2 linked regions of the Homo sapiens genome follow. The protein of the gene in region 2 binds, or shares a complex with, the protein of the main gene of each other region. Each region holds a gene or a part of one and is shown on either strand. Other genes may lie near its edges.

Region 1 (7,392 bases), on a different chromosome or scaffold from region 2:
TGAAACTGTGTAGGCAAGCCATCTAGCCTCTGGTCCTAGTGAAATGGGATGAGAGTTCCTCTTTCACAGTGTTGTCAGGCAATTAAATGAGATAATGAATAAGGAACACAGTGCCAGAAATGCTCAACAGATAGGACTTGTCTTCCTCCTCCCTAAAAGAAATTAAGTTTGGCTGTCCTGAACATGAGTGCCCAGACAACTGAGCTTTCCAGATGTGCAGGGCCTACCTGACCTTGCCCAGGGGTCCTCTGGGTTTGGATGATTGCTTCGAGCCTCAGGGTGTTTGTCCCCGGGGTGTTTGGGTAGAGATGGCGAAGTCGTTGAGAGTCATTTCTGGTTTTCCATTATGTTTGCAAGGAACTCAGCCTTGATGATCTCTGGAGTTCAGGGAAGTTCTCTTTTCCTTTCATATTCCCATTTTGGGTAACTGCGGAACGCCTGAGGTCAGAGGCTTGTCTGGGAAAAGGTGCAGGCCTCTTTTGGCTCAGCGCTGGACAGTGATCTTACCCCACATGGGCTCTATTTTACAGCCTTTTCTTAAAGCCAAAGATTTGACACTGTAACCACAGAACCTTAGAGCCCAGAGGACCTTTGGAGTCCTTACCTACAGGCCAGCTTAGGATGAAACCTTCCCATTTCAGTGAATACTTATCTTGTTCATAAAGATTTTCAGAAAAAGGGATTTGTGATCCAGGTCTCTCATTTATCTTACAGATCTGGTGCCCCTTCCTGAGACCCGAGCCACTCCTGTAGCTATGTAAATTAATTCCTCATGTTCCTGTCCTCAGTGAGGATGGACAACAGTTGGCAGCTGTCCTTCGCAAAATCGATCTCCATTTAGTTGAGACTCTTTCTAAGTCAGTCTCCAGTCTTTTCCTTTTTTTTCAGATGAAACGGGTTGATGAATTTAGATTTTCTTTCCAGAGCTTATTTGCTATTTATCATATGCTTCATTATCTCATCTGAATTTTATAGTGAAAACACTTCAAAGACTCTAAGTGCAATGTGAATGTTAACAATTATACAGTCTTGTTTCTTTGGCTCCCATTCAGGCTATCTTAAGTTGTGACACCTTAAATTTTTGGTAGGACTTCTGCGTTATCTTGGTCCATTCACATTTTAAGAGGAAACTCACACCCCAAGATTCTAAGTCTAGAATCTAAAGTGACAATCCAGGGCTGGGTGCAGTGGCTCACACCTGTAATCTTAGCACTCTGGGAGGCCGAGGTGGGCGGATCACTTGAGGTCAGGAGTTCGAGACCAGCCTGGCCAACATGGTGAAACCCTGTCTCTACTAAAAATACAAAAATAGCTGGGCATGGTGGCATGCACCTGTAATCCCAGCTACTTGGGAGGCTGAGGCAGGAGAATCTCTTGAACCCCGGAGGCAGAGGTTGCAGTGAGCCAAGATGGGGCCACTGCACTCCAGCCTGGCCAACAGAGCGAGACTCTGTCTCAAAACAAACAAACAAACAAATAAACAAGCCGACAACCCGGAGATATGTGTTAGGTACCCACTTAGTAACAGGGATGCTTCATAGGTCCATGAAGATTCCTAGGAATCTCAGCAAGGGCTTTCTGCCCCTTGGAAGATTTCTATACAAGGGTATGGGGATCTGAACACGGGGCATCTTTCAGTGGGCATCCTTACAATAATAATGAGTTCTTTTGATACTGGCTTCTCCATCTGCTCTTCCCCTTTCTGCACCTGGACATCAGAATTAAGCTGCACTTGTCCCCCACACCTCCCTCGCAGACTGCACTGCCCCTCCTCCTGGGCAGTGATGGGGCGTGTGGAGGAGGCAGCCTCCAAGGGCTCTGCTCTCTTCAGACAGGAGATTGTCACTTTCCTTCCCTTCTTCAGGCGTGGACAATGAGGATGACCATGGCCGTGGAGATCTGGGGCGCCTCAAGAAGCAGAAGGATCACCACAACCCTCATCTAATCCTCATGATGATTCCCCCACACCGGCTCGACAACCCGGGCCAGGGGGGTCAGAGGAAGAAGCGGGCTTTGGACACCAATTACTGCTTCCGGTGAGACTGGGCCCACATGGGAACCAACATCTACTGCCTGCCTACTGCCCAATGGCTAGGTCAGGCCCCAGAGCCAAGCCACACTCAACAGAGGGTCCCTGATGCTATTCACAAACATCTCCAGGAAGAAGACTGAAAATCTCTCACAGAGATTTTCTCTGTGAAATCTCTTTCTGTTTTCCTGGGAGTCCCACTGTTTTTCCATAGGCTAACTCTGGAAGGAGCTGGCTGAAGTAAATGAGGAAAACTCTGTGAGGAGGAGTGTTGCTAAAATAGTTTGGATTGGAGAGGCTTGGTCAAAGCCTCTCCATGATTTCCATGTTTTAAGCACTTGTAGAGTGTATGTGTGAGATTAATGTAGGAGTTTCCATTAAAGAAGTGCTCAGTTAGTTCCCTATGAAGGGTCCAAGGATGCTACTGGATGGAGGCAAATAGAATGGTCTCCATTTGAACGGAAAGTTGGAGCTAGAGAAATTAACAAATGAATTCAGAAATTACTGGGTAGCCACAATAGAGAGATAGAAAAGACCCAGCTTCTCTTACTCAGGAGCAGTTTCACTGCTCATTTATAAAGGGAGGATAAAGTATGCATGCCAACTACTAAAAGGGAGAAGATGATCACGCCCATGAGAGGGTCCGAAGGATTAAGTGCTTTAACTGGGAGCAATGAGTTCACCTATGGACACAGGAAAGGCTTCAGAAGGGTGTGGAATTTGAGCAGAGGCTTCAAGGATGAGGTTTGGGGATGAAGGGATCCAGGAGGGGAAGCACTGCAGGTAAAGGAAGGAGCATGAGTGAGTGAGTCCATCTGGCCTCAGAGGATGCCGAAATGAAGCTGGGGAGAACGAATTGGGAAATATTTAGATCTGGAAACCATGTCTTATGAGGATGGTTGGGCTTGGGAAACTAGGGATGTTCAGTTGGGGGAACAGCTCAACAGCAAGGTATAGGAGAGGCAAGGTAGTTGCCACAAAGGCTGGCATGTAGATTTATTTATTCCATCAGTTAGGAACAAATCAGTTAGGAACGAATCAGTTATCAGTTAGGAACGAATCAGTTAGGAACGAATGATCTTGGCCAGTGACTTTAATCATAGTGATTTCTTGTTCACAAGAGGCCTGTAGCAGCAGGGTTAGGGTGGGCTGGCTGCTTAATGATGCCACCGAAGACTCAGGCTTTCTCTCTTTCCAGTCTGCCATGCTTAGTATGTTGGCTTTTCATCCTTTTCCTTATGGTCACAAGTGATTGCTAGGGCTTCAGGCACCTTGTCCACATTTAAGACAAGAAGGAATGAGGGAAGGGGAAGAGCCAGAAGCTTTCTTCTTCCATCTGTCACTTTTATAAATAATCGAATATCTTTGCCAGAACTTGCCCTTACCCCCTGCATACTTCTCCTTGTCTGATGGGTCATTACTGGGTCACATGACCACCGCTACTCTCAAGGGAGGACAGGAAAAGGAGCATCTGGTGTTTTCGACTCTGTAATGGGATGTCACAAGGGAGAAGGGAGTTAGGAATGGTTATTGAATAGATAACCAATGGTGTCTGCCATGGTTCACCCTTGGAACCCACAAGAAGCCAGATTTTGGCTAATAGCTGCCTTTGGAAGTAGCAAGTTCTAAGTCTCAGCAGATATTAAAGCAGAGGCTAGCTGTCCACTTGGCAAGCGGTATTATTGCCAAATGATCTCTGTAGGCAACAGAATTGAAGGGGCCTGATAATCACATTTGGGTGATCTGTTGAACCACGGTTCTAATAGAAGGATATGCCTTATTTGGCTAAATGGCCTTTGGATTGAGTCTCAGCAGTCACCTACTATAGTAGTCAAGCTGCATAAACTTAGAATTGATTTCTGTCTGGGTGCACATTAGGAGGGTAAAAATAAAACCAACCTCAACAAAGCTGAGTTGGCTAATAACATTCAGTGCTTGGTTTTATGTGGAGCGCTTCATAGCACTGCTTTGTATTGTGATAGAAAAGGGTGCAGGGCCACCTTTGCCTCTTTACTCTTCCTCATGCAGCATTTATCTCTGTTTCTTACATCCTTGGGATCCTGGTCTTTAACACATGAATGTGCCTTTCTGGTTTCTTCTGCCCCATGCCCTTGAACCTGGGATTCCATTGATCAGAGCCACCTATGATGGCATGAAAGGACTCCAAGGGAGAATATGAGAGCATTCATGAAGTTTCTTTTATTGGTGGTTTTAAGTTGATTTTCTATAAATGTTTTTTGTTGTAGCAACTTGGAGGAGAACTGCTGTGTGCGCCCCCTCTACATTGACTTCCGACAGGATCTGGGCTGGAAGTGGGTCCATGAACCTAAGGGCTACTATGCCAACTTCTGCTCAGGCCCTTGCCCATACCTCCGCAGTGCAGACACAACCCACAGCACGGTATGGAGCAGGCTCATGCCATCTGAGGCACTGGGGCTGACCGACCAGACCACTTGTTAAAAAGAATGAGTGAAGGATTGAATGTTGAGTGAGCAAATGATGGTCTGGGGTGAGTAAAATTCCTCTGGTGAAGGTTCTGATCTTGGCACCCTGACTCAGTTCTACTCAGTCACATTCTGCCCTTTTAAATTCCTACCATAGTTTCAACCAGCTTTTTAATTTGCTTTGTCCAAAGCTCTCTGTACCGTAGAAATTAATTAACTGCCACGTGTTACCCTATGTCAGAGATATGTGCATGTGGCTGGCAAGGAACACTGAAGTAGAAAGGCTTCTATCAGAACTCTGATCATTCCAGCCTCTCGAATGTAGAAAACTTACTCTGAAAGACAACAACAAGGATGGACAAGAAGCTAATTTGAAATGCTAGGAACAGAAAGTGAGATAGCCGAGAGTCCACAACCCCTGAAACTAGTCTGTCTTTCCCTTGAGGGGAATCAAAAATAGGGCAGTAATTTGTGAAGCATGTTTCCTTCTAGCTCATTGTTTCTGCATCCTGTCTGGGGCCCTGCACGCTGCACTTACTAAATGGCTCAAGGCAATGTTTTGTGAGAACATTTCTCACCGAAGTGATCAGTTCCAGCTAGGAAGAGCAATGTAAGTGTTTTCTTAAAAGCCAAGATAGGCCGGGCACGGTGGCTCACGCCTGTAATCCCAGCACTCTGGGAGGCCAAGGCGGGTGGATCACAAGGTCAGGAGTTCGAGACCAGCCTGGCCAACATGGTGAAACCCTGTCTCTACCAAAAATGTAAAAAATTAGCCGGGTGTGGTGGCACGCGCTTGTAATCCCAGCTACTTGGGAGGCTGAGGCAGGAGAATCGCTTGAACCCAGGAGGCGGAAGTTGCAGTGAGCCAAGATTGCACCACTGCACTTCAGCCTGGGTGAAAGAGTGAGACTCTGACTCAAAAAAAAAAAAAAAAAAAAAAAAAAAAAGCCAAGATAATTCGTTATCAGTGTAGTAACTGTCATATGCTTCAACTCATCACCCCAAACAAGTGCAGTTGTTCTGCTTCTGTCATTGTGGATGAACAGCAACTACACAACTACTCACTCACCCAAACCAGGTTCCAACAGTTTTTTTTTTTTTCTTTTTTTTGAGACAGACTCACTCTGTGGCTCAGGCTGGAGTGCGGTGGCACTATTTCTGCTTACTGCAACCTCTGCTTCCTGGATTCAGGTGATCCTCCCACCTCAGCCTCCCAAGTAGCTGGGATTACAGGCGCCTGCCACCACAGCCAGCTAATTTTTTTGTATTTTTAGTAGAGATGGGGTTTCACCATGCTGGCCAGGCTGGTCTCAAACTCCTGACCTGAAGTGATCTGCCTGCCTCTGCCTCCCAAGTCCTGGGACTACAGCTGTGAGCCACTGCACCCGGCCCCCAACAGTTCCTCTTAAAGAGCACCCGTGGCCATTCTAGCACTTGCTCAGCTTCTGGGACTGCCCCTGGAACTGGGCGACTTCCTGGGTTCCAGGCCTGAGACTTGGCCTTCCAACCTCTCACTGACATGTCCCTTCCCAGGTGCTGGGACTGTACAACACTCTGAACCCTGAAGCATCTGCCTCGCCTTGCTGCGTGCCCCAGGACCTGGAGCCCCTGACCATCCTGTACTATGTTGGGAGGACCCCCAAAGTGGAGCAGCTCTCCAACATGGTGGTGAAGTCTTGTAAATGTAGCTGAGACCCCACGTGCGACAGAGAGAGGGGAGAGAGAACCACCACTGCCTGACTGCCCGCTCCTCGGGAAACACACAAGCAACAAACCTCACTGAGAGGCCTGGAGCCCACAACCTTCGGCTCCGGGCAAATGGCTGAGATGGAGGTTTCCTTTTGGAACATTTCTTTCTTGCTGGCTCTGAGAATCACGGTGGTAAAGAAAGTGTGGGTTTGGTTAGAGGAAGGCTGAACTCTTCAGAACACACAGACTTTCTGTGACGCAGACAGAGGGGATGGGGATAGAGGAAAGGGATGGTAAGTTGAGATGTTGTGTGGCAATGGGATTTGGGCTACCCTAAAGGGAGAAGGAAGGGCAGAGAATGGCTGGGTCAGGGCCAGACTGGAAGACACTTCAGATCTGAGGTTGGATTTGCTCATTGCTGTACCACATCTGCTCTAGGGAATCTGGATTATGTTATACAAGGCAAGCATTTTTTTTTTTTTTTTAAAGACAGGTTACGAAGACAAAGTCCCAGAATTGTATCTCATACTGTCTGGGATTAAGGGCAAATCTATTACTTTTGCAAACTGTCCTCTACATCAATTAACATCGTGGGTCACTACAGGGAGAAAATCCAGGTCATGCAGTTCCTGGCCCATCAACTGTATTGGGCCTTTTGGATATGCTGAACGCAGAAGAAAGGGTGGAAATCAACCCTCTCCTGTCTGCCCTCTGGGTCCCTCCTCTCACCTCTCCCTCGATCATATTTCCCCTTGGACACTTGGTTAGACGCCTTCCAGGTCAGGATGCACATTTCTGGATTGTGGTTCCATGCAGCCTTGGGGCATTATGGGTTCTTCCCCCACTTCCCCTCCAAGACCCTGTGTTCATTTGGTGTTCCTGGAAGCAGGTGCTACAACATGTGAGGCATTCGGGGAAGCTGCACATGTGCCACACAGTGACTTGGCCCCAGACGCATAGACTGAGGTATAAAGACAAGTATGAATATTACTCTCAAAATCTTTGTATAAATAAATATTTTTGGGGCATCCTGGATGATTTCATCTTCTGGAATATTGTTTCTAGAACAGTAAAAGCCTTATTCTAAGGTGTATGTCTGACTCGATAAATATCCTTCAATTACCCTTAATTCCATGTCCGCATCTACTAATCAGAGGTAACCAGAATCTGGGGCAGAGAATCTGTCAATCACCAAACACATTGCTTAGCGCAACTCCCCTTACACAGGGG
Region 2 (7,798 bases):
ATATGATGAAAATTCTGAAAACTAGATATTCCCAACAAGGATTTTGAATCTTGAGCAAGTGATCCAAAGCAAAGGGAGGATTCAAAGTTGTTCTTAAGAGTTAGACACTTCCTGCTACTGCTTATGCCTCCGTGTTTTCTGGCCTTGGTTAGTCGTAGTCTCCCAGCTTCCTGCTGATTCTGTGATTCTGTGGGCTCCCAATTTTCTTTCAAGAATTTCCTTTTTTTTTTTTTTTTTGAGACTGTGTGTCATTCTGTTACCCAGGCTGGAGTACAGTGATGTAATTTCAGCTCATCGCAACCTCCACCTCCAGGGTTTAAGCAATTCTCATGCCTCAGCCTCTCACATAGCTGGGGCTACATGTGTGTGCCACCATGCCAGGCTAATTTTACATTTTTAGTAGAGACGGGTTTTGCCATGTTGGCCAGGCTGGTCTCGAACTCCTGACCTCAGGTGATTCTCCTGCCTTGGCCTCCCAAAGTGCTGGGATTACAGGTGTGAGCCACCACACCCAGCCAATAGTTTCCTTTTTTACTTAGAACAGCCATAATCTGACTCTTTACTTGAAACTAGAAGTCATCACAATATGAGATAATTGAGGAGAATCAGAGCTCTGATTTCTGCCTGCTCATGAATTCCCTTGAAAAAGTGAGGTTGGTTTCTTTGCCAGTCTTTGTCTCAGTTTCCACATTTGTAAAATGGGGCTAGCTCTGTAGCATGCTTCGAGGAAAATTAATCTGTGAGATGTTCTCTCATACAGGTTTCTTCCTTTGGAGAATCTAATGGCATGCTGCTCTATTGAGTTTCCGGAAATTCCTCTAGTAAGGGATTTAATTTGACTTTAATTCAGCATTTCCCAAGCTTAATCATGGAAGTCTTGTTTCAGAAAACATTAATATCTCACAGATTGAGTCATCCATAAACTATCTTGGCAAGAGACACTGGCTCCAGCAGTTCATTTTTCTTTGAATTTGCACCTGACACTGATCTCTGTTATTAAACACTCATGAGGCCTTTAAGGAGTCTCTGTATTAACCCATTAAAGTAGGAAGTTCTTAAACTTCAGAGCATATAAAAACCATTTGAGGACCTTGGTATAATGCAGATTGCTGAGCACCATACAAGATCTACTAATTCAGAATCTCCTGGAATAGAGACAAGGAATTAGAACTCAGAATTACTCTATGGGGGATTGTGTTGTATGCAGTCTTCAGTCTACAGTATGAGAAACACTGTCTTATGTAACAATTCAGTGAAAAATACCTTCAAGCAATTTATGTACTTTATCATTAGAAGAAGCTAGAGGTCATAGTCACAATAATATATCTCACTGGTCTGACCATTAATCATCTTCTGAGATGTCTCAGGCAAGCTTATAGATAACTTGTGAATACCCACCCAAAACGTACTGAATGGCTCTGATCCCAACTTCAAAAAGATGTAACATTAAAATTCAAATGTGTCTGTAGGTGCCACTATGAGATCAATAATTTGGGCACATCTAGTTAAAGTGTGAATAGCCACAGCTGTATGTGGTGTCTTACACCTATAATCCCAGCTACACAGAAGGCTGAGGTGGGAGGATAGCTTGAGTTCAAACTTGAACCAGGAGTTCAAGGCCAGTTTGGGCAACATAGTGAGATAGCAAGATTCCATTTCTTAAAAAACAGTCTGAGTGTCTCCCTCACTCCTGCTACCTATCTATAGCTTATTCATTCTCACCATAAACTCACTTAGTGAGAAATCAAGGTTAAAGGAGTAGGGAAGAAATTTAAGTAATTTAATTTTATGACTTTTTAGTAACTCAGCTCAAAGACTCTAATGATAGGAAGCCTGGAATGAATAACTAAAATGTTATTTTTAGACTATCTGTGAATTTCATTTCCTCTCATTACCACAAATGATGAAAAATTAGCTGTCAGAAATTTCAAAGCAATATAGCAGAACATGATGGAAAAACAAATTAATCAAGTCACCATCTTCCGAAACATTTTTCCTTTATTAGAATTCTTCAGGTAATATGACGAAGATAACAATACTGCATTTCTTTAAAATATGCTGTACATTTCCTCATAGGAAAAAGGGTGAGTTATGGTGACCAGTGACATTAACTGGAAACAAGCAAACTTTTGGTTCCTGGGCCACTAGTTGTATTTACTTTAAGAAAACCCTAAAGATGATTTGCAGTCTTTCAGAGAGTTTACTTTTATGTTTACAGCCCAAAATGTGCAGATAACTTGTTTGTAAATAACTGGCAGGGGTCACAGTGTCACATCTAGGAGATTTCATTTTATTTTATTTCGACAACCAGAGTTACAGCCTCTTTACAACTGAGAAGTGGTAATAAATGGTATTGTGCTTATTCTTCAACAACTCCATAGCACTGGCACCTGACATATATTTGCATGAATTTCATGTAACAAAATGTAGAAATCTTTCTTTCTAAAGGGCTTCAAAATTTCCCGAAACAGACTTCTGAACTTCATTTTATTCCTCTTGCTACATGGTTGTTCTGGATTAGTATATATATCAACACCTAAAAACAGAGTTACAAAAATTAGTGCATACCTCATCAATTTCATAAAGTTACATCCTTTCTTGTTTGCATACATTTATATTTTATTTATTACTGTAACTGCCACTTACAACCCAGCAACAAAGAGTTGTATTTTAGAATATTATGGAATGGTGATATGATAGACACTTTAAAGTGTATTGACATGTCCTTATGGGAATTAGGGATTTAATTTTTTTTTTTTTTGATTGAAGCACTGCATGTCTCAAGGGTGGCTGCATTCAGTAGGTCTGTGACATAACCCCTGGAAAATACCCAGGCTGCCCAATGGAAGAGTCACTAATCAGATATTGAATATGATATTTTTGTGTTCAAATTTTCAAGTCCTCACACCCATCCTAACTAATTTTTAGGCCTTTCCTTTAAGACAACCAAAAAACAAAACTATAACTGTTCAAACTTGGAACTAAGGAAAGGAAATAAATATTAAAGCGGAGCTGGATTTATTTCTATTTATTTAGAGTACATCACCTCCAGTAGAATTATGTTGCTAAGGTTGGGATCACGGCTTTGGTCTCGCGAAGGGACCTGCTTTGCAGATCCAGGGCTCGTTTAATTTTCCAGCTGGGTTCCTGCTTTGCTTAACTAATCCTGTGCACCCCGTTGTGCGGTCCACACCTGAAAGGGGGAGTTTCGATGTTGTGGTTTATTAACCAGGTACTTTCCATTCACTCAGTCAACAGAAAGAAAGAGAGAGACCGCGCCTCCTACTTTTTTTTTTTTTTTTTTTTTAACTACAAATAAGGAGACGGAAACTATTAAATAAGAAGGGGGGAAACTCCCGCATATTTCACCTTGACCTGGCTGGACTGGTCTGCTGCCTCTAAGAGGCGGGTGTTGTATTAAAATGAGAGGTCAAACTCCTCGAATGGGAATCGCTCCTGCCCCTAGAGGGAAAAGAGAACCATCACCGTGTTAAACTGGAAACACTGCCTTGTTTCCAATGCGGGGGACTGAGTTCCCTCCCTCGACTTAGCGTGGTAATGACAGGACCCGAGGAGGCGCGCTGCTTCCGGGCAGTTGCCCAGCATAACACCCGCACCCTACTTGCACCTAAATTTCTGAGCTGCAAGCAGGCAGAAGTGCCTTCCACTTTCTCTCCTTAGCTCCCCTCTCCCCGCTTTGCTGCTGTCTGTAACTTTTTGTTCCGTTTACTGGGAAGGTGACGCTTAAGATCAAAAGACCCACTGTAACTTGCAAAAGCCCAGAGCCACCACCAGACGCTGGGGAAAAACAGGGCTGTCCAGTCCAGGGTTAAGGTTTTGAGCAGAGAAGGAGCAGCGAGAAATCTCGGCCAGTCGCTCCGGGAACAGCCCCTGCAGACTGGTCCAACTCTCCAAAGGCTAGGGACACCGGGGCAGCCTTGTGGTGGGGTAGAGGACGAGCTCCTAACTGCAAGCAAAGTGCTGAGTAGAGGGCGTTGGGGGCAGGGGAGGTCCCTTGACTCCACTTTGTATGCAGCAGCTGCGGGGCAGTGAGTATCTCCGAACAAAGCGGCGAGCAGCGCGGGGGTGAGAGATTGGGGTTTGCTCGCAGCTGCCGCTGGCGCTGAGCGAGTCTCCCACCACCCCCGCGAGCGTTGGGGTGCAAGGATTCGGGGGAGGAGGGAGAAGGGAACGAGGCGTGCCATTCCTGTTGCGCGGCTACGCTTCAGGAGTTCTTGTGAACGATGGGAATGGCAACTATCAGAGCCAAGGGGGAAAAGAAAGAGCTGGAGTGAGCAAAACAAAGAGCGAGTGTGGGCCGCGGTGACTTCATGCCTCACCAATGTCCCGCCCACGCTGCTCCGAGCTGTTACTGCTGCTCCTGCCCGGGCTGCAGCCGCGCCTGCGGGCAGCCGAGGCGAGGCGCTCCGGTAGCGTGGGGAGGTTTCCTAGCAACTCTCTGCCCTGAGTGCACCCGGCTACCCGCAGGTCTGGAGCCCCCCGGGGGGCCAGAGCAGGACCACCCCTCTCCCGCCCATCGCCGGCCTCGCCTCTCTCGCATCCTAGCCGTGTGCACCCCAGAGCGCGCCAGCAACTCGGGCTCTGGACTGCGGGACGCCTGAGCCGCGCACTGAGGCGAAAAGGACAAGGGCACGCAGCCCCCGCCCCGCGAAGCCGGGCTCCGGCACCTCGCGGAACCTCCCCTCCTGCGCTCGCAGCCGCAGGCCCCACTCCCCGCCAGGGAGGGAGCGGCGATGCCTCGCTCTGTGCCTGCGGGTGTCGGCGGGTGCTTCTAGGGCGCTCCCAGAGCCGCCTCCCCCTGTTGCTGGCATCCCGAGCTTCCTCCCTTGCCAGCCAGGACGCTGCCGACTTGTCTTTGCCCGCTGCTCCGCAGACGGGGCTGCAAAGCTGCAACTAATGGTGTTGGCCTCCCTGCCCACCTGTGGAAGCAACTGCGCTGATTGATGCGCCACAGACTTTTTTCCCCTCGACCTCGCCGGCGTCCCCTCCCACAGATCCAGCATCACCCAGTGAATGTACATTAGGGTGGTTTCCCCCCCAGCTTCGGGCTTTGTTTGGGTTTGATTGTGTTTGGCTCTTCGCTAAGCTGATTTATGCAGCAGAAGCCCCACCGGCTGGAGAGAAACAAAAGCTCTTTTCTTTGTCCCGGAGCAGGCTGCGGAGCCCTTGCAGAGCCCTCTCTCCAGTCGCCGCCGGGGCCCTTGGCCGTCGAAGGAGGTGCTTCTCGCGGAGACCGCGGGACCCGCCGTGCCGAGCCGGGAGGGCCGCAGGGGCCCTGAGATGCCGAGCGGTGCCCGGGCCCGCTTACCTGCACCGCTTGCTCCGAGCCGCGGGGTCCGCCTGCTAGGCCTGCGGAAAACGTCCTAGCGACACTCGGCCCGCGGGCCCCGAGGTGCGCCCGGGAGGCGCGAGCCCGCGTCCGGAAGGCAGTCAGGCGGCGGGCGCGGGGCGGGCTGTTTTGCATTATGTGCGGCTCGGCCCTGGCTTTTTTTACCGCTGCATTTGTCTGCCTGCAAAACGACCGGCGAGGTCCCGCCTCGTTCCTCTGGGCAGCCTGGGTGTTTTCACTTGTTCTTGGACTGGGCCAAGGTGGTAAGTTGTTTTGTTTTGTTTTGTTTTCTTCTCTTCCCCAAAGGTCTTGGGCTGGCACGAAGAGCTGCCCGGCCAGAGCATCCCGGCCAGGTAAGTTGCGGTCATCAGAGAACTTCAAGGGGGCGGGTGCGGGGCAGCGTCCTCCAGCACAGATGGCCTAGAGGCCAGGTGTCAAGCATTTCTGCCCTGGAGCGACAGCAAGGACTAATTATCAGAGGAGACACTCTGTGTTACTCCTAGGTGTTGAGGAAGCCCTAATAGAAAGGAATTTTGGAAAAGAGGGTGTCCTGTTTACAGAAGTCATTTAGGGGCCCTGGTCCATTCTTAAGGGCATCGTCTGTACACAATGTTCTCCCTATCTTTCTAACATTTGGGTCCACTAAGGACTAACTTGCCTTTAACTCGAGGCTGTAGATAAGTTGGTTATAATGGGAGTAGTCTTCAATTTTTGAGTCCAGAAAAAGACAGCATACAAGTTTCTGCTATCATTAGTGCTCAATCTGAATGAATTACCCACACTGGAGGGATATTAATGCTTTAAGTCATCATCCTTTCGGCTTAAAAAAAAAAAATACTATCTAATTGATCCCTCACTGAGATCAATCTCTGAGACAGAGAAGCAGAAAGAACTCTGAACCAGGATTAACAGCTTTCTGTCCAGGCAAACCATTTGTGTAAGAGCTACCTTAATGTGGAGAGGTTAACTCTTTACGAAATGCATTGTCCTCATCTGTAAAACGAGGTTTATTAATAATACCTGCCTTCTCTAAATCACAAAGGAAAGTTCAAGTCAAATAGCATATGAGAAGGTGTTTTAGGACTTTTGATTTATGAAACAAAATCAAATGTAAGGTGGTATACCAGATTGGATTGTTGGAAAATTACACAACTAAGTAATAGGACGAATCATGAGTTTAGGATGAGTTCTTAATGGTTTTCAATATAGGCCCAACATTTATTTTTGCTAATGCAGTGACTCTTGTCATACTTTCTTTTTTTTTTTTTTTAATTTCACTTTTTCTCTGTTTGGTCACCAAGTCCTTAAATTATATTAGAGCCTTTCTCTGACCTCTTGGGCTCAAGGAGAGTTTAATTAATAGTTGTAATTGTTTTGTAGGTTAAAATTTACTCCTATACTTTAAAGTGTCAAGGTTTTGCCTGAAGCTAATTAAAACAGTCAAATCATAACCTTATAAGTAGGTTTTATATATATAGATATAGAGATATATGGAAACATCCAGCTATCTTTAGGAAATTGTTGCATATACAGTTTTCTAATATTTGTTTCAGGGAGATTTGCTCAGTTATCTGAAATGGAGAAATTAGAGTAAATCTCTTTATCTTGTGGTTATTTTTTGGCTTGTTTGTTGATTTCAAAATAGTGAAAAGGCAAAGGAAAAAGTAACATTCATTATCAGTTATCTCTTAAATGGAAGAAACATGCATTTGTTGCAGCAAATTTTCCGCTAAGCATAATTTCATCCTGTTTCAATAAGTAATAAAGTGCTTTTCTAGATTTAGTAAACACACATACACACTAGTAAAATGACCAAAATTTGTGTTAACACAGTATATTTTGTTCCCAACGTACAGGCAAAGGAAAAAGTCCTACTTGCCTCTAAAATTTACTATTTAAAGTACATTTTTAAAAACCATTAACTGTGCTTATAAACATTAGTCAGGCTCTTGTGAAAAAGCATTGCATTTCTACCCAGTGTCTAAAACTGATTTGAAGGAAATATTATGAATGGGCCTACTTGCACCTGCAGACCTGAAAAGGGAATGCTTATCTGAAATCAGAACAAGGCATCCTTTTCCCAGTCTCTGTCAATATACAAAGGTTTCTGATGTATACTGATTTGCATGGCAGTTAAAAACATGCAAAAAATGTAAATTATAGCCAGTATAACTCAGAAAATTAGAGATCAGCATAAACTGCTGTACTTTTGTGATATAGCTACAAGTCTCAAATTATATGTCTTTACAGTGCAAATTAGATGCTTAAAGCAGAATAGAAATTTAGGTATCAGTTACAATGGAAATCTTGTTTCCTTGCTCAGTAGTTTACACCAGGAGAATGTTGAGGGCAATAAAGCCATACAAAAGAGACCAGAAGCTGCATAAGACCAGCATAACTTTGGGTTTAATTTTTAAAGCAGAATTTATAGGTCTCGAACATATAGTG

What was found. Proteins that work in one complex are often made in the same cells at the same time.
Region 1: the proteins of ITGB8 (region 2) and TGFB3 are in contact, whole or in part, in a cryo-EM structure (PDB 8VS6), measured with the Homo sapiens proteins. Residues at the interface, in NP_002205.1 of Homo sapiens: Ser156, Ala157, Ser158, Asn161, Arg206, Gln210, Cys211, Tyr214, Leu216, Ser247, Gly248, Asn249, Ile250, Asp251, Thr252, Glu254; in NP_001316868.1 of Homo sapiens: Gly262, Asp263, Leu264, Arg266, Leu267, Lys268.

What each region holds. Positions count from the first base shown.
Region 1 is NC_000014.9:75,957,960-75,965,351, reverse strand, and holds the end of TGFB3 (transforming growth factor beta-3 proprotein isoform 1 preproprotein), read left to right. Parts: intron 1-1,864; coding exon 1,865-2,036; coding exon of another isoform or gene 2,037-2,040; exon of another isoform or gene 2,041-2,291; intron 2,292-4,275; coding exon 4,276-4,429; intron 4,430-6,006; coding exon 6,007-6,165; 3' UTR 6,166-7,255; downstream 7,256-7,392. UniProt on the Homo sapiens protein: Transforming growth factor beta-3 proprotein: Precursor of the Latency-associated peptide (LAP) and Transforming growth factor beta-3 (TGF-beta-3) chains, which constitute the regulatory and active subunit of TGF-beta-3, respectively.
Region 2 is NC_000007.14:20,326,321-20,334,118, forward strand, and holds the start of ITGB8 (integrin beta-8 precursor), read left to right. Parts: upstream 1-4,579; 5' UTR 4,580-5,486; coding exon 5,487-5,613; intron 5,614-5,656; coding exon of another isoform or gene 5,657-5,703; intron 5,704-7,798. UniProt on the Homo sapiens protein: Integrin alpha-V:beta-8 (ITGAV:ITGB8) is a receptor for fibronectin. It recognizes the sequence R-G-D in its ligands.